3 separate regions of the Homo sapiens genome follow, and all the other regions are linked to region 2. Evidence: fine-mapped QTL for protein levels in blood plasma. Region 2 holds a variant in brackets. A gene starts in each other region. All regions are shown on their reverse strands. Region 1 holds the start of CD248 (CD248 molecule). Region 2 holds the start of GAL3ST4 (galactose-3-O-sulfotransferase 4). Region 3 holds the start of PLXDC1 (plexin domain containing 1).

The links. PIP is the chance, under the fine-mapping model, that this variant and not a neighbour inherited with it causes the effect. The UK Biobank Pharma Proteomics Project read protein levels with antibody pairs (Olink). The fine-mapping took linkage between variants from a reference panel, not from the people measured, so its PIPs are less certain.
Region 1: CD248 starts here. The variant in region 2 is fine-mapped to the plasma level of the CD248 protein (UK Biobank, PIP above 0.99).
Region 3: it holds the start of PLXDC1, and the variant in region 2 is fine-mapped to the plasma level of the PLXDC1 protein (UK Biobank, PIP above 0.99).

What each region holds. Positions count from the first base shown.
Region 1 is chr11:66,312,718-66,320,884 of GRCh38, reverse strand. It overlaps CD248 (CD248 molecule), which reads left to right and starts at 3,841. Exons shown (of 1, transcript NM_020404.3): 1 at 3,841-6,391. The coding sequence starts at 3,858. The coding sequence ends at 6,131. RefSeq lists enhancers at 838-1,337, 1,338-1,839, 4,396-5,092 and a silencer at 3,643-3,912.
Region 2 is chr7:100,163,362-100,171,531 of GRCh38, reverse strand. It overlaps GAL3ST4 (galactose-3-O-sulfotransferase 4), which reads left to right and starts at 2,915. Exons shown (of 4, transcript NM_024637.5): 1 at 2,915-2,986; 2 at 4,249-4,561; 3 at 4,727-5,030. The coding sequence starts at 4,437. GPC2 (glypican 2) reads left to right here. Exons shown (of 10, transcript NM_152742.3): 9 at 96-271; 10 at 1,049-1,926. The coding sequence ends at 1,302. RefSeq lists a silencer at 1-69. The variant T/C (reference allele first, on the strand shown) is at 4,915.
Region 3 is chr17:39,148,117-39,156,286 of GRCh38, reverse strand. PLXDC1 (plexin domain containing 1) reads left to right here and starts at 4,650. Exons shown (of 14, transcript NM_020405.5): 1 at 4,650-4,925. The coding sequence starts at 4,850. It overlaps TRC-GCA2-3 (tRNA-Cys (anticodon GCA) 2-3), which reads left to right and starts at 2,482; the gene lies at 2,482-2,553. TRC-GCA2-4 (tRNA-Cys (anticodon GCA) 2-4) reads left to right here and starts at 1,725; the gene lies at 1,725-1,796. RefSeq lists a silencer at 1,667-1,736 and enhancers at 1,613-2,117, 2,118-2,624, 2,997-3,146.

The DNA.
Region 1 (8,167 bases), not on the chromosome of region 2:
GCAATAAACATACGTGTGCATGTGTCTTTATAGCAGCATGATTTATAATCCTTTGGGTATATATCCAGTAATGGGATGGCTGGGCCAAATGGTATTTCTAGTTCTAGATCCCTGAGGAATCACCACACTGACTTCCACAATGGTTGAACTAGTTTACAGTCCCACCAACAGTGTAAAAGTGTTCTTACTTCTCCACATCCTCTCCAGCACCTGTTGTTTCTTGACTTTTTAATGATCGCCATTCTAACTGGTGTGAGATGGTATCTCATTGTGGTTTTGATTTGCATTTCTCTGATGGCCAGTGATGATGAGCATTTTTTCATGTGTTTTTTTTGGCTGCATAATTGTCTTCTTTTGAGAACTGTCTGTTCATATCCTTCGCCCACTTTTTGATAGGGTTGTTTGCTTTTTCTTGTAAATTTGTTTGAGTTCATTGTAGATTCTGGATATTAGCCCTTTGTCAGATGAGTAGGTTGCAAAAACTTTCTCCCATTCTGTAGGTTGCCTGTTCACTTTGATGGTGGTTTCTTTTGCTGTACAGAAGCTCTTTAGTTTAATTAGATCCCATTTGTCAATTTTGGCTCTTGTTGCCATTGCTTTTGGTGTTTTAGACATCAAGTCCTTGCCCATGCCTATGTCCTGAATGGTATTGCCTAGGTTTTCTTCTAGAGTTTTTATGGTTTTAGGTCTAACATGTAAGTCTTTTCTCTTTCTTTCTTTCGTTCGTTCTCTCTTTCTGCCGAGACCAGCTCGGTCGGGGAGACCCTAACCCAGCGGTGCTAGAGGAATTAAAGACACACACACAGAAATATAGAGGTGTGAAGTGAGAAACCAGGGGTCTCACAGCCTTCAGAGCTGAGAGCCCCGAACAGAGATTTACCCACGTATTTATTAACAGCAAGCCAGTCATTAGCATTGTTTCTATAGATATTAAATTAACTAAAAGTATCCCTTATGGGAAACGAAGGGATGGGCTGAATTAAAGGAATAGGTTGGGCTAGTTAACTGCAGCAGGAGCATGTCCTTAAGGCACAGATCACTCATGCTATTGTTTGTGGCTTAAGAATGCCTTTAAGCGGTTTTCCGCCCTGGGCGGGGCCAGGTGTTCCTTGCTCTCATTCTGGTAAACCCACAGCCTTCCAGTGTGGGCGTTATGGCCATCATGAACATGTCACAGTGCTGCAGAGATTTTGTTTATGGCCAGTTTTGGGGCCAGTTTATGGCCAAATTTTGGGGGGCTTGTTCCCAACATCTTTCCTTCTTTTCTTTTTCTCTCCCGCTCGCCTCTCCCCTCCCCTCCCCTCCTCTCCTCTCCTCTTTTCTTTTCCACAGTCTTGCTCTGTCGCCCAGGCTGGAGTGTGCAGTGGCGCAATCTTGGCTCACTGCAACCTCCACCTCCCAGGTTCAAATGATTCTCCTGCCTCAGCCTCCCGAGTAGCTGGGATTACAGGTGCACCACCACGTCCAACTAATTTCACAAGTAAATATATTTAATGTCAGATAGTGATAAGTGCAGAGCGAGAAAATGCAGGAAGATCCAGTGGTCAAGGAGCCCCAGGGGGCGGTGTGGGGTGGGGTGAGATGGTCAAGGACTCTGGTACTTGAGCTGAGCCCTGGAGAAGGTAAAGAAGCAGAGCATTTTTATATTGGAGGAAGAGCATTCCAGGCAGCAGGAACAGCCAAGACCAAGGCTGTGAGGCAGAGTGTCTGGAGCATTTAAGGAACAGCAATGAGGCCAGAGTTTGGAGGCAGATGACATAGACCAGGAGGCCATGGCAAGGACTGTGGCCCTTCCTCTAAGCGAGATGGGGGGCTCAGAGGGTTCTGAATGGAGAAGTGATCAGATCTGACTTGGATTTTGAAAGGATCCCTCTGGCAGGATGGAGAGGGCAAGAGAGACACCACGGGAGAGGCTGTTGGGGAAATCTAGATTGGCGTTGCTAGCCACCTGGGCCGGGGGTGGGTGGCAAAGAAGGTGTCCAGGAGTGGTCAGATTCTGGATCTCTTTTGAAAGTGAAGCCAACAGGATTTGCTGAGAGACTGGATGTGGGCTGTGGGAGAAAGAGAGGAGTCAAGCATGACCTCAAGGTTTGGGGCCTGAGCCAACAGAAGGATGAACTCCTCCATCTTGACTTTTGTCTCCTGAGAAGGGGAGTCATTCTGTGTGCTTCACATGTATAGACCTTGTAAGAAGGAACTTCCAGGCATATGGCAAGAACTTCCTAAGCCCTGGTTCTCGAGGGGCTGGCTGGGTCTGCAGGGCCAGCCTAGGCACTGTAAGGTGGTTTGCAAAAACGCACCCTGGTCTCCACCCACCACATATGCTCAGAAGACAGGAACATTTGCTTCAGGCTCCACAGCTGACAAAGCACATTTGCAAACACTGAGCGCTGTGACGCAATATCTCAGCCCTGCTGAGCTAAAAATCCTGGACTCATTGCCCTCATGTTGCAACTGAGAAAAAAGGAGACCCAGAGAGGGCCAGTGACTCCCCTGCAGTCACAAAGTCGATCCATCTGTGGCAGAGGGGGAAGCTGCATCAGGGCAGTTTACTGAAGGGCGGAACCTCTCCCCCACCTCCCCACACTGTTTCTAACTTCTGCTAAGAGTGCAGCGGGTGTGCATGGGTTAATCCGCCAGCCAGCTCCCCAGAGGCCATCCTGGATGATGGGCTCAGTGCACATGCCTCCAGAGGCCTCCAGGAAGGGCGGGAAGAGGACCCTGGCCAGGCCGAAACAGCAGGCCCCGGGGGCAGGGAGGGCTCCACACACGTGATGCCTGTGTCACATATACACATATATGTCACTGTGTGCCCCATGCCCATACATGGCCTTGCATGGGTCCCCTCACAGCCTTCCACATCCTGCGTGCAGCCCAGCCCCCACCCAGCCCCCTAAACCACGCACCCTGCCTTCCTGACGCAGGAGCCCAGAGAGGCATTTCCTGTTTAGGGGCTGCCTCCTCCCCCTCTAAGCCCAGGTTCCCAGGGCCCCAGGCTGAGCTGGGGTGAGGGGAGGGCAGCCCCTGGCCCCCTCACTCCCCCAACACCCCCACACGCTGGCCCAGCTGGAACCAGAAAGCTTGAGTATAGGGGGAGAGGCTGACGCAGGGGCTCAGTAAATAAATGAGAGGCTGAGGATGCCTGTGCCTGGGTGACCAAGCTGTTTCCATTCAGGCCGAATCGGAGGTCTTCATATGTCAGGCCATGTAGAATGCCACACCATTTTTGTATGTGCACCTAGGGTCTCAGCATGTCAGAATGTGTGTACGTGTGGCAAGGGAGTCATCTGCAAGCCAGCATAGGTCCACGGTGAGGTGAAGGGACAAACAGCTTGGCAGAGAGTGCACTCTTGCATGGGGTTGGGGGTGGGGGAGGCGCATGCGCGCGTCTGTGGGGCAAGAAAGGAGTGGGCATGAGGGTGTTCCCGTGCATGGCGAGCAGCTGGGCTGAGACTGCTCCCGGGTGTGATGGGGCTGCTGTGTCCAGATTTGGGTCTCTGAGTCTCTGGGAAGCGACCTCACCCCACAGCCCCGAGCCCCAACTTGAGGGTCACAGAGCTCGGCAGGCAGGCTTTTCCCACCCCCTGACTCTCAGCCCCATGGGGCCTGGGGCAGCCGTCAACTGCGCCTTCTCCCCTCCTCCGCCCCCAACCTTAGAGCCCCCCACCCCACTGCTTCCTGCTCTAGCGGCCCCCGGGGAAGAGGGAGCAGGGAGCTGGCAGCCGCCCCAGCCCACTCCTTACAAGGCCTGAGCCCGGCCCCAGGCCCGCCCCCGGCCCGCCCGCAGGAGGCCCCAGGCCCTCCCCCTGTCAAGAGCTGCCGCCAGCCCGGGGCCGGACCAGTCCGGGGGCATCGCGATGCTGCTGCGCCTGTTGCTGGCCTGGGCGGCCGCAGGGCCCACACTGGGCCAGGACCCCTGGGCTGCTGAGCCCCGTGCCGCCTGCGGCCCCAGCAGCTGCTACGCTCTCTTCCCACGGCGCCGCACCTTCCTGGAGGCCTGGCGGGCCTGCCGCGAGCTGGGGGGCGACCTGGCCACTCCTCGGACCCCCGAGGAGGCCCAGCGTGTGGACAGCCTGGTGGGTGCGGGCCCAGCCAGCCGGCTGCTGTGGATCGGGCTGCAGCGGCAGGCCCGGCAATGCCAGCTGCAGCGCCCACTGCGCGGCTTCACGTGGACCACAGGGGACCAGGACACGGCTTTCACCAACTGGGCCCAGCCAGCCTCTGGAGGCCCCTGCCCGGCCCAGCGCTGTGTGGCCCTGGAGGCAAGTGGCGAGCACCGCTGGCTGGAGGGCTCGTGCACGCTGGCTGTCGACGGCTACCTGTGCCAGTTTGGCTTCGAGGGCGCCTGCCCGGCGCTGCAAGATGAGGCGGGCCAGGCCGGCCCAGCCGTGTATACCACGCCCTTCCACCTGGTCTCCACAGAGTTTGAGTGGCTGCCCTTCGGCTCTGTGGCCGCTGTGCAGTGCCAGGCTGGCAGGGGAGCCTCTCTGCTCTGCGTGAAGCAGCCTGAGGGAGGTGTGGGCTGGTCACGGGCTGGGCCCCTGTGCCTGGGGACTGGCTGCAGCCCTGACAACGGGGGCTGCGAACACGAATGTGTGGAGGAGGTGGATGGTCACGTGTCCTGCCGCTGCACTGAGGGCTTCCGGCTGGCAGCAGACGGGCGCAGTTGCGAGGACCCCTGTGCCCAGGCTCCGTGCGAGCAGCAGTGTGAGCCCGGTGGGCCACAAGGCTACAGCTGCCACTGTCGCCTGGGTTTCCGGCCAGCGGAGGATGATCCGCACCGCTGTGTGGACACAGATGAGTGCCAGATTGCCGGTGTGTGCCAGCAGATGTGTGTCAACTACGTTGGTGGCTTCGAGTGTTATTGTAGCGAGGGACATGAGCTGGAGGCTGATGGCATCAGCTGCAGCCCTGCAGGGGCCATGGGTGCCCAGGCTTCCCAGGACCTCGGAGATGAGTTGCTGGATGACGGGGAGGATGAGGAAGATGAAGACGAGGCCTGGAAGGCCTTCAACGGTGGCTGGACGGAGATGCCTGGGATCCTGTGGATGGAGCCTACGCAGCCGCCTGACTTTGCCCTGGCCTATAGACCGAGCTTCCCAGAGGACAGAGAGCCACAGATACCCTACCCGGAGCCCACCTGGCCACCCCCGCTCAGTGCCCCCAGGGTCCCCTACCACTCCTCAGTGCTCTCCGTCACCCGGCCTGTGGTGGTCTCTGCCACGCATCCCACACTGCCTTCTGCCCACCAGCCTCCTGTGATCCCTGCCACACACCCAGCTTTGTCCCGTGACCACCAGATCCCCGTGATCGCAGCCAACTATCCAGATCTGCCTTCTGCCTACCAACCCGGTATTCTCTCTGTCTCTCATTCAGCACAGCCTCCTGCCCACCAGCCCCCTATGATCTCAACCAAATATCCGGAGCTCTTCCCTGCCCACCAGTCCCCCATGTTTCCAGACACCCGGGTCGCTGGCACCCAGACCACCACTCATTTGCCTGGAATCCCACCTAACCATGCCCCTCTGGTCACCACCCTCGGTGCCCAGCTACCCCCTCAAGCCCCAGATGCCCTTGTCCTCAGAACCCAGGCCACCCAGCTTCCCATTATCCCAACTGCCCAGCCCTCTCTGACCACCACCTCCAGGTCCCCTGTGTCTCCTGCCCATCAAATCTCTGTGCCTGCTGCCACCCAGCCCGCAGCCCTCCCCACCCTCCTGCCCTCTCAGAGCCCCACTAACCAGACCTCACCCATCAGCCCTACACATCCCCATTCCAAAGCCCCCCAAATCCCAAGGGAAGATGGCCCCAGTCCCAAGTTGGCCCTGTGGCTGCCCTCACCAGCTCCCACAGCAGCCCCAACAGCCCTGGGGGAGGCTGGTCTTGCCGAGCACAGCCAGAGGGATGACCGGTGGCTGCTGGTGGCACTCCTGGTGCCAACGTGTGTCTTTTTGGTGGTCCTGCTTGCACTGGGCATCGTGTACTGCACCCGCTGTGGCCCCCATGCACCCAACAAGCGCATCACTGACTGCTATCGCTGGGTCATCCATGCTGGGAGCAAGAGCCCAACAGAACCCATGCCCCCCAGGGGCAGCCTCACAGGGGTGCAGACCTGCAGAACCAGCGTGTGATGGGGTGCAGACCCCCCTCATGGAGTATGGGGCGCTGGACACATGGCCGGGGCTGCACCAGGGACCCATGGGGGCTGCCCAGCTGGACAGATGGCTTCCTGCTCCCCAGGCCCAGCCAGGGTCCTCTCTCAACCACTAGACTTGGCTCTCAGGAACTCTGCTTCCTGGCCCAGCGCTCGTGACCAAGGATACACCAAAGCCCTTAAGACCTCAGGGGGCGGGTGCTGGGGTCTTCTCCAATAAATGGGGTGTCAACCTTACCCAAGGCTTCTGACCCCCACTGGTGCTTAAGGGAGGTTCTGGGAGGACTCAGCAAAAAGGAGGGGATCTTCCTTCAGTTTGTCTGAGTCCTCAAAGAGATAAGGTAAGATCCCTTTAAGGGAGGGTATGCCTCAGAGATTCTCAGGGAAGCAGGAGCCCAGAGAGGGCAGAGCCTTGCCCAAGGTCACACAGTTGAGCCCAGCAGTGGGAGGTTTGGCATGGGGAGAATTTCATATTTATTCCTTATTTTACCAAAGCTCCAAGAAGGTGGGGCTGAATCTGGGGGACGGTTGTGGAATTAGGGCATCTGCTGAACCGGACTGGGGTTTAGGGGTCAAAGTAGGCTCTGGGGCTGGTGATTCAGAGGAGTGAAGGAGGGGTCTAGTGGGTGAGTTGCTCCTTTCTTCAGACACTTCCCTTCCCATCCCTGTAAGCTTCGCGGAAGTTGGGGGCTGGGGCTCAGGGTAACTCAAGGGGACTGCCAACCCCTGGTTTGTGGGTGCTCTTGGAGGCATTCCTCCGCTTGCTCCGGGGAGGAGGCTGGGATGGGAAAGGCCGGGAACCTGGGAGAGATCCCATGCTAACTGCTTGGACAGCCGCAGGAGCAAGGCCTCCTTTTGCCAGGGCCGCACGTTGCTCTTGTCCATGTTGGCTGGGGGTGGTGGGGGACAGACAGAGCTCAGCAGACCTGAGCTTGAGCGAGGGCTCCGGCTGCTCAGGACTGAAGTGTCCCAGGAACTGGAGGGCCTGGTCAAAGATCACAGCCTGGTGGGAGTGACCTCCCTCATTTCGTGCTCACTGCCTTGGGGGGCGGGGGTGAGACCTGGGGAGGGGAGGCGCCAGTTCCCACCGCCTCTGTAATTTTTCAGTTACAGCCTCTTGGGGGCCTCTAATTAGGACGGGGCAGAGCCGCCACGACCACCCGGGCAGGCGAGGAGGAGTGGCCCAGCGCCCCCTTCGGGCCTGGACCTGAGCTGGAAGGCTGAGCTGGGCCCCAGGGAACCAGGAAAGGAGGGGCCGGAGCTGGGGATGAACCAGGGGGTCGCGGAGGGGGCGGAGGGAACGCTACGCACCGCCCCCGGTCCCCGCTCTCACGTTCCCCTAACTCAAACCAGACGTCCCCGCCAGATCCTGCACAGCTTTAACCTCGGAGACGCCGTCGGGCAGGTTTGCTGGATGCCAATGAGGGTTGCGAGGCGGCCCAGACGGCTGAGTCTGGGAAGGAGGTGAGGAAGCCTGGGGAGCGACAAGGCCTGCAGAGACGGGATGGTCTGGAGTCCCCTCCGTGACCTCGGGTAGGGATCTAGAGCGCCTCGAGGGCAGGAAACAGTTAAATACACTGCAGTCGGAGGCGGGGGATGGGAGTGGGGAAGGGGGCCCAGAGCCGGCTCTTTGTCATCTGGTAATGAGCACCAGATGCGGAGCTGCGTGCGGGCCTAAACAGACGGCCTCCCAGGGCAGAGCCCCGGCCTGCGCCCAGCCCGGGCTCAGCCCACTTACTCGCAGGCCCCGCCTCATTCGGGCGCGGCGGCGAACTGCATACTCCAGCGGTATCAGCCCGGACCTGGGAGCTACGAGCCACGCCTACTCGCTGCAGAACAGAAGAGAGCCCCCGGGAGCTCTCCAGAGGCCCCGCCCACAAAGCCACAAGCCCCGCCCCTGCCAACTCAAAGATTCCAGCAGCGATTGTGCCCGCCCCCTGCCCTCTTGGCCCCGCCCAGTCCCCCGCCCACAACCTACAAGCCCCACCTCCTCCGCTCGGCGCGCGCAGATTG
Region 2 (8,170 bases):
TCGGGGGCGTCGGGGGGCAGCAGGGGGCGGGACCGCGGCCGGGAGGGGCGGGGCCGCGCGCGCTAGCTGGCGCTTCGGGGCTGCTCTGCTCGCAGGTACTTGCCGCCAGTGGTCGGGGGCTCCCCGGCCGAGCAGGTCAACAACCCCGAGCTCAAGGTGGACGCCTCGGGCCCCGATGTCCCGACACGGCGGCGTCGGCTACAGCTCCGGGCGGCCACGGCCAGAATGAAAACGGCCGCACTGGGACACGACCTGGACGGGCAGGACGCGGGTGAGACCCCTGCATCCCTGAGCCTGAGCCCCGCCCACTGCCCTGAAGCCTCTCCCCTCTCCTGGTAGTTCCCGCCCGTGCCTCTGCTCTTAGCGTTCATTGATTAATTCACTAATTCATTCAACGAGCATTTATTGAGCGTTGCCCTGAAAGACTGGGGGTAACAGATCAATGAGGGGGTCTGTATCCTTTCAGGCCAGTAGGGGAGACACGAAAACATTCTTAAAGAACAGTGGGAAGCCCCTTATAATGGGCAAAGGGCAGTGGGAAAATGGGGGAGGGGGCAATTTGGGGGAGGCTGGGAAGCCAGGGTGGTGGGTGACATTGAGCTGGCTCCGCAGGGTGGAGTTTGCCAAACAGAGAAGCAAGGCACAGACACTCATTGTTTTCTTCTCTCCTTCTATCTGTCTGTCTCTGTCTCTCTTTGTCACTCTTCCCGCACCCCTCTTCCTGGCTGCTTTCTGCTTCTGTGTACTTCTGATTTTTCTGTTTTTTCCTGTTATCCTCTCTCCCCATCTGCCTGTTTTGTTTTTTTTTCTCTCTGTCTCACTGTCTCCCATCATGATCTCTCCCCCCATGTCTGCTGTCGGATCTCTCTCCTTCCTTCTCTCCCTGCCTTCCTGTCACTCATGGTCTTTCTCCCTTCCCCAACCCGGCATCCACCTGTGTCTCCCTCCCTTTCCTCTCTCTTTCTGTTTTTATCTCAATTTCTTTTCCTCCCTCTGTCTCCCTCTGCTTCTCCCTCCCATCCTGCTCTGTCCCTCTTCTTCCTTGCAGATGAGGATGCCAGCGGCTCTGGAGGGGGACAGCAGTATGCAGATGACTGGATGGCTGGGGCTGTGGCTCCCCCAGCCCGGCCTCCTCGGCCTCCATACCCTCCTAGAAGGGATGGTTCTGGGGGCAAAGGAGGAGGTGGCAGTGCCCGCTACAACCAGGGCCGGAGCAGGAGTGGGGGGGCATCTATTGGTTTTCACACCCAAACCATCCTCATTCTCTCCCTCTCAGCCCTGGCCCTGCTTGGACCTCGATAACGGGGGAGGGGTGCCCTAGCATCAGAAGGGTTCATGGCCCTTTCCCCTCCTCCCCCCTCAGCTGGGCCTGGGGAGGAGTCGAAGGGGGCTGCAGAGAGGGTAGAGAAGGGACTTTGCAGGTGAATGGCTGGGGCCCCAAATCCAGGAGATTTTCATCAGAGGTGGGTGGGTGTTCACAATATTTATTTTTTCATTTGGTAATGGGAGGGGGGCCTGGGGGTATTTATTTAGGAGGGAGTGTGGTTTCCTTAGAAGGTATAGTCTCTAGCCCTCTAAGGCTGGGGCTGGTGATCAGCCCCAACAGAGAAAATGAGGAGTTTAGAGTTGCAGCTGGGGAAGGGGTTTGAAGGAAGTTGGAAGTGGGGAGGGGTGGGGGCATCTGGTCTCAGAAATGGACCAGCTGGATGCAGGGCAGGGGACTGAGGGTGCTTGAGTAGGATGTGAGACTTCATGGGCCTGGGTTCTGTTGAGTTTTTTCAGTATCAATTTCTTAAACCAAATTTTAAAAAAAACAAGGTGGGGGGGTGCTCATCTCGTGACCTCTGCCACCCACATCCTTCACAAACTCCATGTTTCAGTGTTTGAGTCCATGTTTATTCTGCAAATAAATGGTAATGTATTGGACCCCATGTGTGGCTTCTGTGCTGTCACCATCAGTGCCTGAGCCCTGGCTCCTAGCAGAGGTCTCAGAGCCTCTGTGACTGGCTCATTTTCTGCCGGCTTTTCACTTCCCTTGGCACCTGTCCCCCAGGAGGCGGGCCTAGACAATAACCTCTGATCTCCAAATTGCCCACCCTCTGGGCCTCTGAGCATCTTCGTTTGTACAACAGGGAGAATTGTGGGGACCAAATAGAATCTGTGTGAAAAAGCACCTTGTCACCTGCAAAATGCTCTTTGAACATGAGGCTTTTTTTTTTTTTTTTTTGAGATAGAGTCTCGCTGTTGTCGCGAGGCTGGAGTGCAATGGCGCGATCTCAGTTCACTGCAACCTCCGCCTCCCCAGTTCAAATGATTCTCCTGCCTCAGCCTCCTGAGTAGCTGGGATTACAGGCGCCTGCCACCACAGTCAGCTAATTTTTGTATTTTTAGTAGAGACGGGGTTTCACCATGTTGGCCAGGCTGATCGCAAACTCCTGACCTCAAGCGATCCACCAGCCTTAGCCTCCCAAAGTGCTGGGATTACAGGCGTGAGCCACCGCACCCGGCCACGAAGCATTATTAAGGTGACCACACCACTGCCCCCTGCCTTCAGGATGGGAGGCCTTGTTCTCTGAGTGTCAGTCTCTGGCTACCTTGCCACGTCCTTGACAATGTCTGCTTTCAAATATCACTTTCTCCTTCCTTCCTTCTTTCTTTCCACCGCCTGAATGAATCTTTTGTTCTGCGGCAAGCCAAGAGAAAATGGTAGGATTGATTCCCAAGTGTGAAAGCGGGGGCGGAAGTGGTGTCTTCCAAGAGGAGTCTGGGTGCCCTGCCGAAGAGGGGAAGATGCAGCGAGGGAGAGACCTAGAACCGCGATCAAAGCTGCAGCAGCTGCTGGGGCTGGCGGCACAAAGGGAGGAGGGAGGAGCCTGGGCGCTGAGAAAGTTCTTGGGGAAAGTTGAGCTGAGCCAAGAGTCGGGCGGTGGCTGGGATGGGCGGGAGGGCCCGGCCCGATTTCCCTTGCTGCTCCCCTTGTGGCCTGGTGAGTGGGAAGTGAAACCAAGGATAGGACCAGTGGAGGGACCCTCTAATTTATGGGAGGAGACATGAGGGGTTCATGGAACCCCAGCGGGGGCAACTGGGCAGTCACCAAAGCTGGAGGGGACAGAGGGCTGGGATCTCCAATCATGGGAAGGGAGAGATGGATGGAAGGAAATGAAGAACTCTGGATAGGGGAGACGCGGCTAGACCCCAGGGGCTGTGATCAGGGAGGGAATTGGGGAGTGATGCCAGAGAGGGCAGGTCTCCGGGAGTAAAAGTGTGGCTTCTCTCTGCTTGGGGTTACCCCTGGCTCATCGGAGCAGGGAGCTGTCGGGGCTTGTTGGAGGGGCCGTGGTCCCTGATCGCGAGTTGTAATCTGAAGGGGCGGGGCTGGACTCCCGGTTGATTAGGAAGCTCGGGCTTCAGAAGGAACTCTGCAGTTAGTGTTTGCGCCTTTCTCCTTATCTTTGTGTCATAGTCTCTCTGTCCCTCTGTCTCTCTCTCTCTGTTTCTCTGTGTGTGTGTGTGTGTGTGTGTGTGTCTCTCTCTCTTTCTGTCTCCCTCTCCAGCCCCACCCTTTCAGTCTCCTCCGGGTGCACTGATAAGGTTGGAAAGTGGAATGGTGGGTAAGTCCAGGGATCTGGGCTTTATAAGTAGCCACACGTCTCCCCCAGCCCCTGTCATACATGGGGGTCTGCCCCGTGCTGAGACAGAGAAAAAAGAGGCGCGGGAATTTATAACCCAATGGCTCTTACCCATTGCAATGCCACTCCTGGAAGTCCAACCTCCCTTCCTCCTGCCTGGGTTCATACACCTGTGTCCTGTCTGATCCTCATTCCCACTGTATGGCTTCCCTTCCTGGTCCTGGGATAGGGCTCTTTATCCCCATCTGTGACAGCCAGAGGGGCTCTGGAGGAAACCAGGTTCCCGACCATGGTCTGACCTGACTGTGTTAATGAGCTGATTGATCTGATCTCTCTCTCTCTTGCTGGCTGTTTCATTCACGAGCTGGGGCTTTTTCTCTCCTTCCCTTATAAATCCCCAAGGCTCAGGGACAACTGTAGGTGGGGAGCGGGAGGAACTGGAGATAAGAAAGTGATAGAGCAGAGACAGTAGTTGTGGGGCCACCTAGGAGAGTCTGGGTATAGACAACATCCCCAGCCACTCCCCTTCCCTGAAGGAGGTCTCAGCTGCAGCAGGAGAGAAGGCTGCCTCTGCCTCTCTCCTTAGACTTCCCTTCTTCCCCCCTCATTTCCCTTCTAGACGCTGACAGAGGCAAAAATCTGCTAACTCAGGGGGCAGACTCAACCAAGACTGTGAGCAGGCCTGGGGAATGACCCCCCGATCTCCAACCAGTGCCTTCCGCAGCTGCACGGCTGTCTCCAGCTGTCTCTGCCCCTCTTCCTGGCCCTGGCTCCATCTCTCTGTCACCTCACCCTTCCCTGTGCCACATGGGCCCTCTCTCTCCTGCCAGGACGCTGCGGCTCTGGGGACCTCGGAGCCTGGGGGTGGCTCTGGGAGTCTTCATGACCATTGGCTTTGCACTCCAGCTCTTGGGAGGGCCCTTCCAGAGGAGGTGAGTTCCCACTTTGCCCCAACTCCTTCTAGACGCCCCGTACTTGCTCTTCCCCATCCCACCTGGGGCTGGTGACTCCTGAGGACTCAGAAGCCTCCATGCCCTCTGTCCCTTCTACCCATTTGCTGCTGAGGAACAGGACACTCCCCCTCCATCTCTTCCCAGGCTACCTGGGCTACAGCTCCGACAGCCCTCGGCCCCATCCCTACGACCAGCCCTTCCGTCCTGCCCACCCCGGCAGCGACTGGTGTTCCTGAAGACACATAAATCCGGGAGCAGCTCTGTGCTGAGCCTGCTTCACCGCTATGGGGACCAGCACGGGCTGCGCTTCGCCCTCCCTGCCCGCTACCAGT[T/C]TGGCTACCCAAAGCTCTTCCAGGCCTCTAGGGTAAAAGGCTACCGCCCACAGGGTGGAGGCACCCAGCTCCCCTTCCACATCCTCTGTCACCACATGAGGTTCAACCTGAAAGAGGTAAGGAGTGTCGCAGTGGTGGGAGGGACCAGAAACAGATGGGCTCAGGCTGACACCACCAAGGGAGGGGGCCCAGACCTGGGGGCTCCCCAGGCATCATCTCACCCTAAAGTTGGACATAGGGGCCACAAAGTTGGGCTCCCTGCCATCCTCTCTACAGGTGTCCCTTCCCCAGTAGTTTCTGGGAGCCCAAGTCCTCCTCCCTTCTCTCTCTGGCGCTTACTCCAGTCTCTCTCTTTCACCAATGTATTTCCCTGGCATCAGTGCCTTGCCAACTCTGAGCCCCCAACTCTCCCTCCAGGTGCCCCTTACTCTTCTGTTTTTAAATTATTTTTTGGAAGACAGGGTCTTACTCTGTCGCCCAGGCTGGAGTGCAGTGGCACAATCATAGCTCACTGCAGCCTTGACTTCCCAGGCTCAAGTGATCCTCCCACCTCAGCCTCCTGAGTAGCTATGGCTAAGGCATGTGCCACTACACGTGGCTACTTTTTAATTTTTTGTAGAGATGGGGTCTTGCTATGTTGCCCAGGCTGATCTCAAACCCCTGGGCTTAAATAAATAAATAAATAGTCCTGGGCTCAAGTGATCTGCTCACCTTGACCTCCCAAAGGGTTGGGATTACAGGAGTGAGCTTGCCCAGCCTGTGTGTGTGTGTGTGTGTGTGTGTGTGTGTGTGTGTGTGAGACAGGGTCTCATTCTGTCATCCAGGCTGGAATGCAGTGGTACAATTATAGCTCACTGTAACCTCAAACTCCTGGGCTCAAGCGATCCTCTCACCTCAGCCTCCCAACTAGCTGGGACTACAGGTGCATGCCACCACACCTGGCTATTTTTTTATTTTATTTTTTGTAGAGATGGAGTCTCACTATGTTGCCCAGGCTGGCCTCAAATGATCCTCCCACCTCAGCCTGGCAAGTACCTAGGACAACACGCCCCTTCCCTTTCTTAGCCTCCCTTTCACTGTCACACCAGGGCCCCACCTCCCCCACTGCCTTCTGACTTGTCTTCTTCAACCCCCTCACATTTTGAGGATCAGCTGTATTTTTAGCCCGGGACTAAGCCCAGCACTTTGGGAGACCAAGGTGGGCAGATCACCTGAGGTCAGAAGTTCGAGACCAGCCTGGCCAACATGGTGAAACCCTGTCTCTACTAAAAATACAAAAATTAGCCAGGCGTGGTGGCACACGCCTGTAATCCCAGCTACTCGGGAGGCTGAGGCAGGAGAATTGCTTGAACCCAGGAGGCAGAGGTTGCAGTGAGCCGAGATTGTGCCACTGCACTCCAGCCTGGGCAACAGAGCGAGACTCCATTTCACAAAAGAAAAAAAAGGCCGGGCGCAGTGGCTCACGCCTGTAATCCCAGCACTTTGGGAGGCCAAGGCGGGTGGATCACAAGGTCAGGAGATCGAGACCATCCTGGCTAACACAGTGAAACCCCGTTTCTACTAAAAATACAAAAAATTAGCCGGGCATGGTGGTGGGTGCCCGTAGTCCCAGCTACTCAGGAGGCTGAGGCAGGAAAATGGCATGAACCTGGGAGGCGGAGCTTGCAGTGAGCTGAGATCGTGCCACTGCACTCCAGCCTGGGTGACACAGTGAGACTCTGTCTCAAAAAAAAAAAAAAAAGGAAAGAAAGATAAATAAATAAAATTGAAAATTAAAGTGGCAGAGCTGGAAGTTGAGCCCAGGTCCATGCACTCCAAAGTCGAGGCTTCTTCCGAGGCTTGTGCATGTGTTTGTATCTGGAATGGTGAGAAGAATATTCACCAAAGAGGTGATGCTTTCTGGAGAGGGGGGTTTATTTTACTTTATTATTTAATTTTGATTTTTATTTTATTTATTTTGAGACAGAGTCTTGCTCTTTCCCCTGGGCTGGAGTGCAGTGGCACGATCTCAGCTCACTGCAACCTCTGCCTCCCGGGTTCAAGCAATTCTCATGCCTCCCAAGTAGCTGGGACTACAGGCACCCGCCACCACGCCTAGCTAATTTTTGTACTTTTAGTAGAGACAGGGTTTCGCCATGTTGACCAGGCTGGTCTCAAACTCCTGACCTCAAGTGATCCGCCCACCTCAGCCTCCCAAAATGCTGGGATTCCAGGTGTCAGCCACCGTGCCCAGCCGAGAGCGGGGGGTTTTAAAGGAAAAGGTGGATGTGGCTTGTGGTAAGGACAGCATGAGGCATTCTTAGAGGGAGCAAAACACCAGCAAGGACATGGTGGGGTGCACGTGTGTGTGTGCATGTAAGAGGGAGAACGTCTGTACTGGGGGTAGAAGTTCCACAGGGGCTGCAAAGTCACCCTTGTTGAAGCTGGAGCTGGAGACACCAGCTGAGGACATGGGCGTGCTCTGATGGGCAGCGAAAGGCCACTGCCAGGAGTGAGGCAATGACAGTGACCTTTGAGGTAGGTTTCTCCAGAGGCTAGGATGATGGCCTTCACTGACGCCACCATTCACTGAATACCTACCATGTTCCAGACACTTGCACATTCTTCCAGGTAAGTGTTACCCAGTTACTCAGATTTCTAGATGGAGGAATGATGGCTCTGAGACCTTCAATAACCCGCCCAAAGTCACAGAATTAGTAAATGGCAGAGTGGGATTTTATTCCAGGTCCAGATGCCAAAGACTGTTTTCTTCGCTTTCCCCTCTGCCTTCAAAGAGACCTGCAGGGCCAGGCATGGTGGCTCATGCCTGTGATCCGAGTGTTTTGGATGCTGAGGTGAGAGGATTACTTGAGCCCAGGAGTTCAACGCCAATCTGGGCAACATAGCAAGACCCCATCACTACAAAAAAATTAAAAATTAACAGGGAATGTTGGTGTGTGCCTGTAGTCCCAGCTATTCAGGAGGCTGAGATTGGGGAATCCCTTGAGCCCAGGAGTTTTCAAGGCTGCAGTGAGCTATGATATGCTGCCTAAGTGACAGAGCAAGGAGACACTGTCTCTTAAAAAATAGTAAGAAGAAAATAAACACTGAAAAGCTAAAATGCTCATTTCCTGTCCTCCCCCTCAAAAAAAAAAAAAAAAAAGAGAGTTCACAGGCTGCTATTCAGGTGTGCCATACTTGCAGAGCCGATTGAGGAACACCATGACAGACAGAAGTCAGATTCAATGATGGAAGTCATTTTTGGAGGCAGAAACCC
Region 3 (8,170 bases), not on the chromosome of region 2:
TGCCATTGCACTCCAGCTTGGGTGACAGAGCGAGACACCGTCTCAAACAAAACAAAGCAAAATACAAAAATTAGCCGGACGTGGTGGCGGGCGTCTGTAATCCTAGCTACTCGGGAGGCTGAGACAGGAGAATCCTTTGAACCTGGGAGGCGGAGGTTGCAGTGAGTTGAGATCGGGTCACTGTACTCCAGCCTGGGCGACAGAGAGAGACTCCGACTCAAAAAAAAACAAAAACAAAAACAAAAAACCCTGGAATTGCTCTTCATTTCCTCAAACCTCCTTCCACCCTCAGGCTTTTTAGCCCCTCAGCCATTTTTGTCCCATTCCCTTTGGGCAAAGGAGATTCTAGCAAGGTGAAGAAGGTGGGCTCAAGGGGAGGAGGGCAGAGGCAAAAACTGGAAGGGGAAATGGAGGAGGACAGGACGTCCCAGATAGGGACAGCCCTTTGCACTGCAGGGATTCCACTTCTCCTCGTCTTCCCATTCCCTCTGAGATGCTGACTCTGACCACAGCTCTTGGACTTTAAGCCACCCCACAGCATCCCCTTTACTTCTAGTGTCCTTCCAATTTGAATCCCACTCCTCCCAAATATACCAGATTCCTAAAGGGGCTGCTTGTTTGTCTTTGTGTAATGATTTTTGTTGTTGTTGTTATTGTTGGAGTCTCGCTCTACCGCCCAGGCTGGAGAGCAGTAGTGGCGCGATCTCGGCTCACTGCAACCTCCGCTTCCCGGGTTCAAGCGATTGTCCTGCCCCAGCCTCTCGAGTAGCTGGGACTATAAGCGCGCACCACCACGCCCTGCTAATTTTTTTGTATTTTTAGTAGAGATGGGGTTTCACCATGTTGGCCAGGATGGTCTCGATCTCCTGACCTCGTGATCCGCCCGCCTCGGCCTCCCAAAGTGCTGGGATTACAGGCGCGAGCCACCGCGCCCGGCCAGGATTTTAAAAAAAATACTGTATTAGGATTTTTATAAGGCTGTAGTAAATGCTATTGAAAAATGCTTACCTCTTATTTCAGCCTTCTCCTCTGTCTGTTCCTCAAACTGGCTTTTGGTTTGAGAGAAGGGGAGGAGCGACCCTGGGGTTGGAAAAGCCCAGGAGACAAGATGGAGATCCAGTCTGTTCATCTGTACATCCCTGGACCTGGGGCGGTCCTGGGGACAGTCCTTTTCTCAAGCCAGTCAGTGGACATTTGGGGGAGAGTCTAGGCACGGATATAGAGGACCCAATATTCCTTTTTTTTTGAGACAGAGTCTCGCTCTGTTGCCCAGGCTGGAGTGCAGTGGCGCGATCTCGGCTCACTGCAAGCTCCGCCTCCAGGGTTCACGCCATTCTCCTGCCTCAGCCTCCCGAGTAGCTGGGACTACAGGCGCCCGCCACCACACCCGGCTAATTTTTGTATTTTTAGTAGAGACGGGGTTTCACTGTGTTAGCCAGGAGGTCTCGATGTCCTGACCTTGTGATCCACCCGCCTCGGCCTCCCAAAGTGCTGGGATTACAGGCGTGAGCCACCGCTCTCGGCCCAAGATTCCTTAATCTAGTTGGTTTTCCGAAAGCGTGGCTATGAAGGAAGAACTCAGGAGTTCTAGCCATTCCCATTGTATTTTGTGTTTTTTTCAGTAGGTATCCCGACGCAACCCTCAGATTAAAACTTTAAGGGAAAATGAAGACCACACCCCTATTCCATAGAAATTAACTCTAATGACAACGTAGTGGCGTGGCGGGGGTATAGCTCAGTGGTAGAGCATTTGACTGCAGATCAAGAGGTCCCCGGTTCAAATCCGGGTGCCCCCTCTGTGCTCCGGAGTTACCTCGTTTTGTTGGTCTCCGGAGGTCCTCTAAAGAGTTCCCGCACAGATGGAATGGGAGGGAGTCTCGAGCCCTGCCACCCTTTTTGCTTTCGCAGGCGAGTGAGGATGGAGTCCTGGCCCCTGCCAGTGGCTCAGCCTGTGTGTGTACCCAGGGTAGAATGCAATGCGAGTGAGGGCGAGGAGCTCCGGGCTGACCCTTGGAACACGGTACGGGTGGCTCAACCTCGCAATGGCAGGGCGGAGGCGAGCGCACCCCCAGGTCAGCCTGGCTCTTTCTTGGCGGGAAGGAGGCTGAGTTTCTAAGGGCTGGGCTGGGGAAGACAGGTCGGGAGAAGCCGCGTGAGCATGTGGGAGGGAGAAAGAAGCTCCGAGACGTGGCAAGGGGTCTTCTGCAGGGCAGGAGAGTGGGACGCCCCCGAAGTGAAATATTTCGAGAGACTTCTCCTTCCACACCCCAGGAATATATTTTCTTATACTGCCAGTGGGGATCTTCAGCTCAGAGCTTCAGGGAACAACCCCTGCTTCCAAGTGAGTAATTCTTCTGGGAGTTGTATTTTTTCCATCTCTTGTAAACGTCTTACCCCACTTCCACTTCCCTTCGGGAACGCCACACAGCGCCTGCGCAGCAATACCACTAAACGACTACGTGCGGTCGGTTTGCCGGCAGAGGGGGTATAGCTCAGTGGTAGAGCATTTGACTGCAGATCAAGAGGTCCCCGGTTCAAATCCGGGTGCCCCCTCTTTGGCCTTTTCGAGATACTGTTTTTGTCCTGGGTGTCGATTTTTCCTAAGCTGTTTGCTTTTACTCCTACTGGCAGACGAGGAGCAGTGAGGGACTGAAAGGAACTGGGGATTCAACAGCAGTGGCTCTCAAAATGTGGTCCTGGGACCAGCAGCATTACCTGGGTACGCTCGGGCCTCATCCCAGACCTAATGAATTAGAAACTTGAGGGTGGAGTCCAGAAATCTGTGTTTTCATATACGCTCCCCATCGCTTGAGTCCAGGAGTTGGAAGCTGCAGTGAGCTATGATCGCAGCACTGCACTCCAGCCTAGGCAACGTGCGAGAACCTGTCTCAAAAAACAAACAAAATACACACACACACACACACACACACACACACACACACACACACACACCCTGCAGGTGATTACGATCTCAAGTTCTAGAGGCTTACGTTAAAATTTACACATTTGCTTCTACTATTTACAAGTTTATGTTTCAGCCTGAGCTCTTCTTGTAAGACAGACCACGAGGTACCCCAGATGGAGGAATGTGCAAAGACGCCGGGGCTGGAGCTGGAATCCGTCCCGAGACTTCTCACCTTGACCTCGAGGAAGGCAGGAGGTCGGAGACAGGGGGTGGGCAGGCTGGGGAAAGAGGAAACCCGCAGGACAAGAGGGTTGTGGCTCGTCACGTGGCCACTTGAGGGCAGCAAGTAGCTGCAGCTGGAGGTAGCTGCCTATCTGATTCTGTTTGAGAGTCCGCCAAGTTGGGATTTAAATTAGACATCAAGAAGAATTTACAGACCGGCCTTGCCTTGTTCCACGGTAAGGGGACATTGGGTTTAGGGCTGGAGGAGGTAGTCTCTGGGACTCTGGGCCCGGCGGAAGGAGGAACCGGCGTTCTAAGAGATTAGAGAGCCTTTAGTTGTTTCCTTTCTTAGGTGTTTTTTTTTCTTTTCTTTTCTTTTTTTTTTTTTTAACCTCAGTGCCACGGAATCCGTCTCTTCCAGCCCACAGTGTACCTTCTCCTGTCCCCGCCCATATCCCTCCTCCTGGAAAATTTCTCCAATGGCGCTCAGCGTTCGCACCCTTCCTCTCCGCGGTTTTCTAGTCCCTAGGCCCCAGCCCACTAGAAGCCAGGATGCCCCCTCACCCCGTCTCCCACTCTCCAGCGCCCCAGCTCCTTGCCGTCACAAGAACGAAGTAGGTCAGGGGAGGGAAGAGGCATCTTCGTGTCCTGACCTGATTCCTTGCCGTCTATTAAATATCCTACATTGCGGGTATTTTTATTCTGTCCTGGAAGAAAAAATAAAAAGATTATCTATCCCCAGAGCCTGTCAGAAGGTGGTGACAGGTGGGGTGAGCCATTTCCTCGTCTGGGGCTGGCTCTGAAGATTGATTGGGTCTGGCCCTGAGTAGGCCTGGAGGCCCCAGAGAGGCAGGAGGCCTGGGTTACCTACTCGTGGGGAGGGGTCCAGACTGTTGCAGAGTAAGGGGTAGCCAGGCCCCCTCCACCCTCACGTCTGCTAGGCTTGGGGGGCAAATCGGTGCTGGAAATGGGGGGTGGAGGGATAAGGTGGAGTCATGGAAGGGGGGTGGGATTCAGGCCCCTCTTGGGGAGAAAAGCTGGGGGTCTTTGCTGCAGGGGGAGATTTCTGGGGGTGGGGGCTGGAGGACAAAGCATCAGAGACGCACAGAATTCCGAAGAACAGCTCAGGAAGTCGCAGAGCTTGGAGGAGCTGGGGGCGGGGAACAGTCAGGGGCCCGTGACCCAGGGATGGGGCGCCTGTCCCTTCCAGGGGTCCAGTCCTCGGGCCTTCTCTCTGCAGCTTTCCCGGCGGAACGGAGGAGGGAAAGGGAGCCAGGAGCTCAGTGAGGAGCGCGGGGCGGCTGATGCTTCTAGGGGTTCTCTCAGCCCGAGGGGCTCCCGCCCTGTCCCCTACTCTGCACCCCTTGCCTTGGGAGCGGCTGCAGAGCTCTAGGGGAGCGCTCCGTTAGGGCTGAGGGCAGGCGCCGGGAGAGCCCCCAACGACGCCGCGCCCCCCGCCCCGCCCCCTGCCCCAGCTCCCCCCCACCCCCACCGACCCAGCGGCCCCCCCAGCTCCCCGCCTGCTCCCGGAGGCCGCAGCCTCCAGCTCCGCTCGCGCTCTCGCCGCTCCTGCCGGCTCGCCCGGCCCCGCGCTCCGCCGTCTCCTCGCCGCCCGCCCCTCCGCCAGCCCCGGGGACCGCGCGGCCGCAGCCTGAGCCAGGGCCCCCTCCCTCGTCAGGACCGGGGCAGCAAGCAGGCCGGGGGCAGGTCCGGGCACCCACCATGCGAGGCGAGCTCTGGCTCCTGGTGCTGGTGCTCAGGGAGGCTGCCCGGGCGCTGAGCCCCCAGCCCGGAGCAGGTAGGACTGGCGGGAGCCGGCCCGGGTGGGCCGGGGGCGGGGAGGGACGGGCAGTCAGGTGTGGGCATGGGCAGGTGTGGACGGCCTGGCGATGTCCGCGAGGGGGGCATTGTCCGCAGGAGGCCAGGAGAGCTGTGGGCTGTGGGCAGGTGGATAGGGACCCCACTTTCCCAAACACATAGGGTGTGTGAGTGACGGTGGAGACACCGATGCCCGGACCTCTCCTTCTCTCCTGGAAGGATACTGGAGGGACCTTAGGAGAGGGGGCTCTATGTGGCCATGGGCTCTGAAAGGGGACAGCGGGAGAGTCATCAGGACCCCTGATCACCCCAGGCAAGGCTGAATTCTGATGAGATGGGAGCCTGGGGAGGCCCCTGCCCCAGCCATGCCTTCTTTTCCTCTTCTCTGCCACACCCCCGACCCCAAAGCTGATCCAGGCTAGGGATAGGTGGGAGCAGCCAGGGGGATGGTGGGGACACAGCGTCTCTGCCTGGGAAGGCAGCAGCCATTCGGTCACCTTCCCTTGCCTATTTGGTGTCAGTAGAGAGGCAGTGGGCCCAGGAAGAAGCAACTTGCTGCTTCTGCACCCCCAGCCTCAAGAGTCCCCCTCCTCACACCTGCTCCCATTTGCCCTGGCAGCCTTTGGCTTTCAGCTACTCTGGCTCTAGATGGGGCACTGGGGTAGGGGGTGGAGGGAGGCGTCCCATTCTGCACACTCCTCTTCCCCCCTACCAGTTCTCCAAACTCATCTCTCCCACCTGGAAGTCCTTTCTGAGATCTACCTGGAATCCCTCATGGTATAATTTTCATAGTCTCTGTTCTCCCCTAAGCACCTAGACTTTCTCTGGGGTTGGGGAGATGGGTAATTTGCAGCCTGGCCCCTCAGCAGAGATGATTAAGAAGATAGATACCTGTGCATCATTGGCATGGGTGCCCCTCAGGTGGGGTGAGGGAGGCGCTGTTGAGGTGAGTGCTGTGGTTGACCTGCTGTGTCTCAGGAGTGTGCTGGCACCAGGCACAGTGTCAGTGGCAATGTTCTTGACTTTAATGGTCCCAGCATGTAGCTGAGACAGACCTGGGTCCCTATTGAGAAGAAGAGTATGTTGGGGGTGGGAGGGGAAGGAGGCTGACAGTGGGAAGTATGGGCAGAGGGCAGTGGAGCTGACGAACCGAGAAGCTGCTGGTGAGAACCACCAATTTTCAGGGAGACCACACAGAGGGTGGCCAGAGACGTGGCTTCTAGTCCCGCCATCTCACTTGCTGTGTGACTTTAGACAAGTTACTTTCTCTCTCTGGACCTATTTTTGCATTTATAAAGTGAGGCTGTTGGCAAAATCTTTGACTCTTGTGCGTGGAATAATGAAGGATCTTTTATAATTGCCTTTCCTTTTCATATTTGTTAGGGTCTTTATGGGTAACTGATACTTTAAAAAAATCAAGGTAAACAGGAGAGAGTTGGATATGTTATGAATAATTTCTGGGCTCCTTTGAATCCTCAACCTGGTGTGATCTTCTGAACTCTGGGTGTAACAGAGTTTATGAGGGGAGGATCTGAACCTTTGGCTGGATTGTGTGAACCACGGAGAGGGCTGGGGAAGGGGGAATTGGGAGGTAACAAGGATGGGCTGGGAGATAGTGGCCAGACCCGGGCCTGGCTGAGGGCGGCCCCTTCAGAGTAGGGTTGGGGTAGTAGACGGTTGAGGAGACCAGGAAGAGTGGGGCAGGCAGAGACTTGAATCACTTCTCTAAGTAGAGGCTATCCTGTCTTCTTGGCTTTGACAGAGATTGAGCCAGGAGAAATGCACTTTTTCTGCAGCAGGAGGGATAGAGGTTAGACTTAAGGAATCTGTAAGAAGCCAGAGGCGGCAGCTGTTGACTCCCAGTCCGGTGCCCTTTTCACAGGCCAGGTGGGATTTCACAGGCAGGAGGACCTATGAGGAGGAAGCGGGTGTCTGGGGAGGCCAGATGTAGGAGAAGGACGTTCTGGGGGAGAGTTGCTAAGGAGGGGCAGCCTGACCTGATTGATGGCGGAGTTGTTGTGACCAGTGGAAGGGCAGCTGGGAGCAGGACCTGAAGAGATGCTAGCATCCTTCCCCAAGGCTCTGGGTTTGTGGGGCTGGTGGGGGGCCTTGGGAAGTAGCTGAGATCTCCCCTCGCTCCTGATGGACAGGCTTGTTTGGTAGAGCCTTGAAACCTCATCTATCATTAGAACAGCAGCAGCAGAGAGATGAGTGGCCCAAAGACAGAGTCAGACAGCAGGGGAGACCAGGATGACAGACAGGAAAATGGCCTTGGGGTGCAGAGCAGGGGCCCAGGGAACTGACAGTCTGGTCAGATGGAACCAGAGGTGCATATGACAGATAAAGAAGAGGCAGCGAGAGTTGGCATCCTGGCCTGGGAGTCCTGCAGGAGGCCAGGCTCAATACCAACTACTGGTGACCCTGACAGCTTCCTCCTTTCTCTGAGGAAGGTTTCCCCGTCTATAAAATGGGGGCTTGCACCAGTCACGGTGGCTCATGCTTGTGATCCTAACACTTTGGGAGGCTGAGGTGGGAGGATAGCTTTAGACCAGGAGTTTGAGACCAGCCTGGGCAAAATAGTGAGACCCCATGTCTATAAATGATTTAGGCCAGGCAGGGTGGCTCATGCCTGTAATCCCAGCACTCTGGGAGGCCGAGGCCGGCGGATCACCTGAGGTCAGGAGTTTGAGACCAGCCTGGCTAACATGGTGAAACCCCGTCTCTACTAAATATACAAAAATTAGTATATTTAGTATTGTTATTAATATTATTAATATTAGTATATTAGTAAAAATTAGCCAGGCGTGGTGGTGCATGCCTGTAATCTCAGTTACTCAGGAAGCTGAGGCAGGAGAATAGCTTGAACCCGAGAGGCAGAGGTTATAGTGAGCTGAGATCGCACCACTGCACTCCAGCCTGGGCAACAGAGTAAGACTCTGTCAAAAAAAAAAATTAAAATTAAAATAAAAAATTAGCTGGGCATGGCGGTGTGCGCCTGTAGTCCCAGGTACTCGGAAGGCTGAGGCAGGAGGATCGTTTGAGCCCAGGAACTGGAGGCTGCAGTGAGCTATGATCATGCCACATAGTGAGGGCAGCATAACGAGGTCCCATCTTTTTTTAAAAAAAGGAGGGAAGGAGGTTGGACCAGATTGTCTCTAGGGCTCCAACAACCTGAGACTAAAATGCGAACTTATGGAGGTCAGGCAGCCCCTCCCTCATCCCACC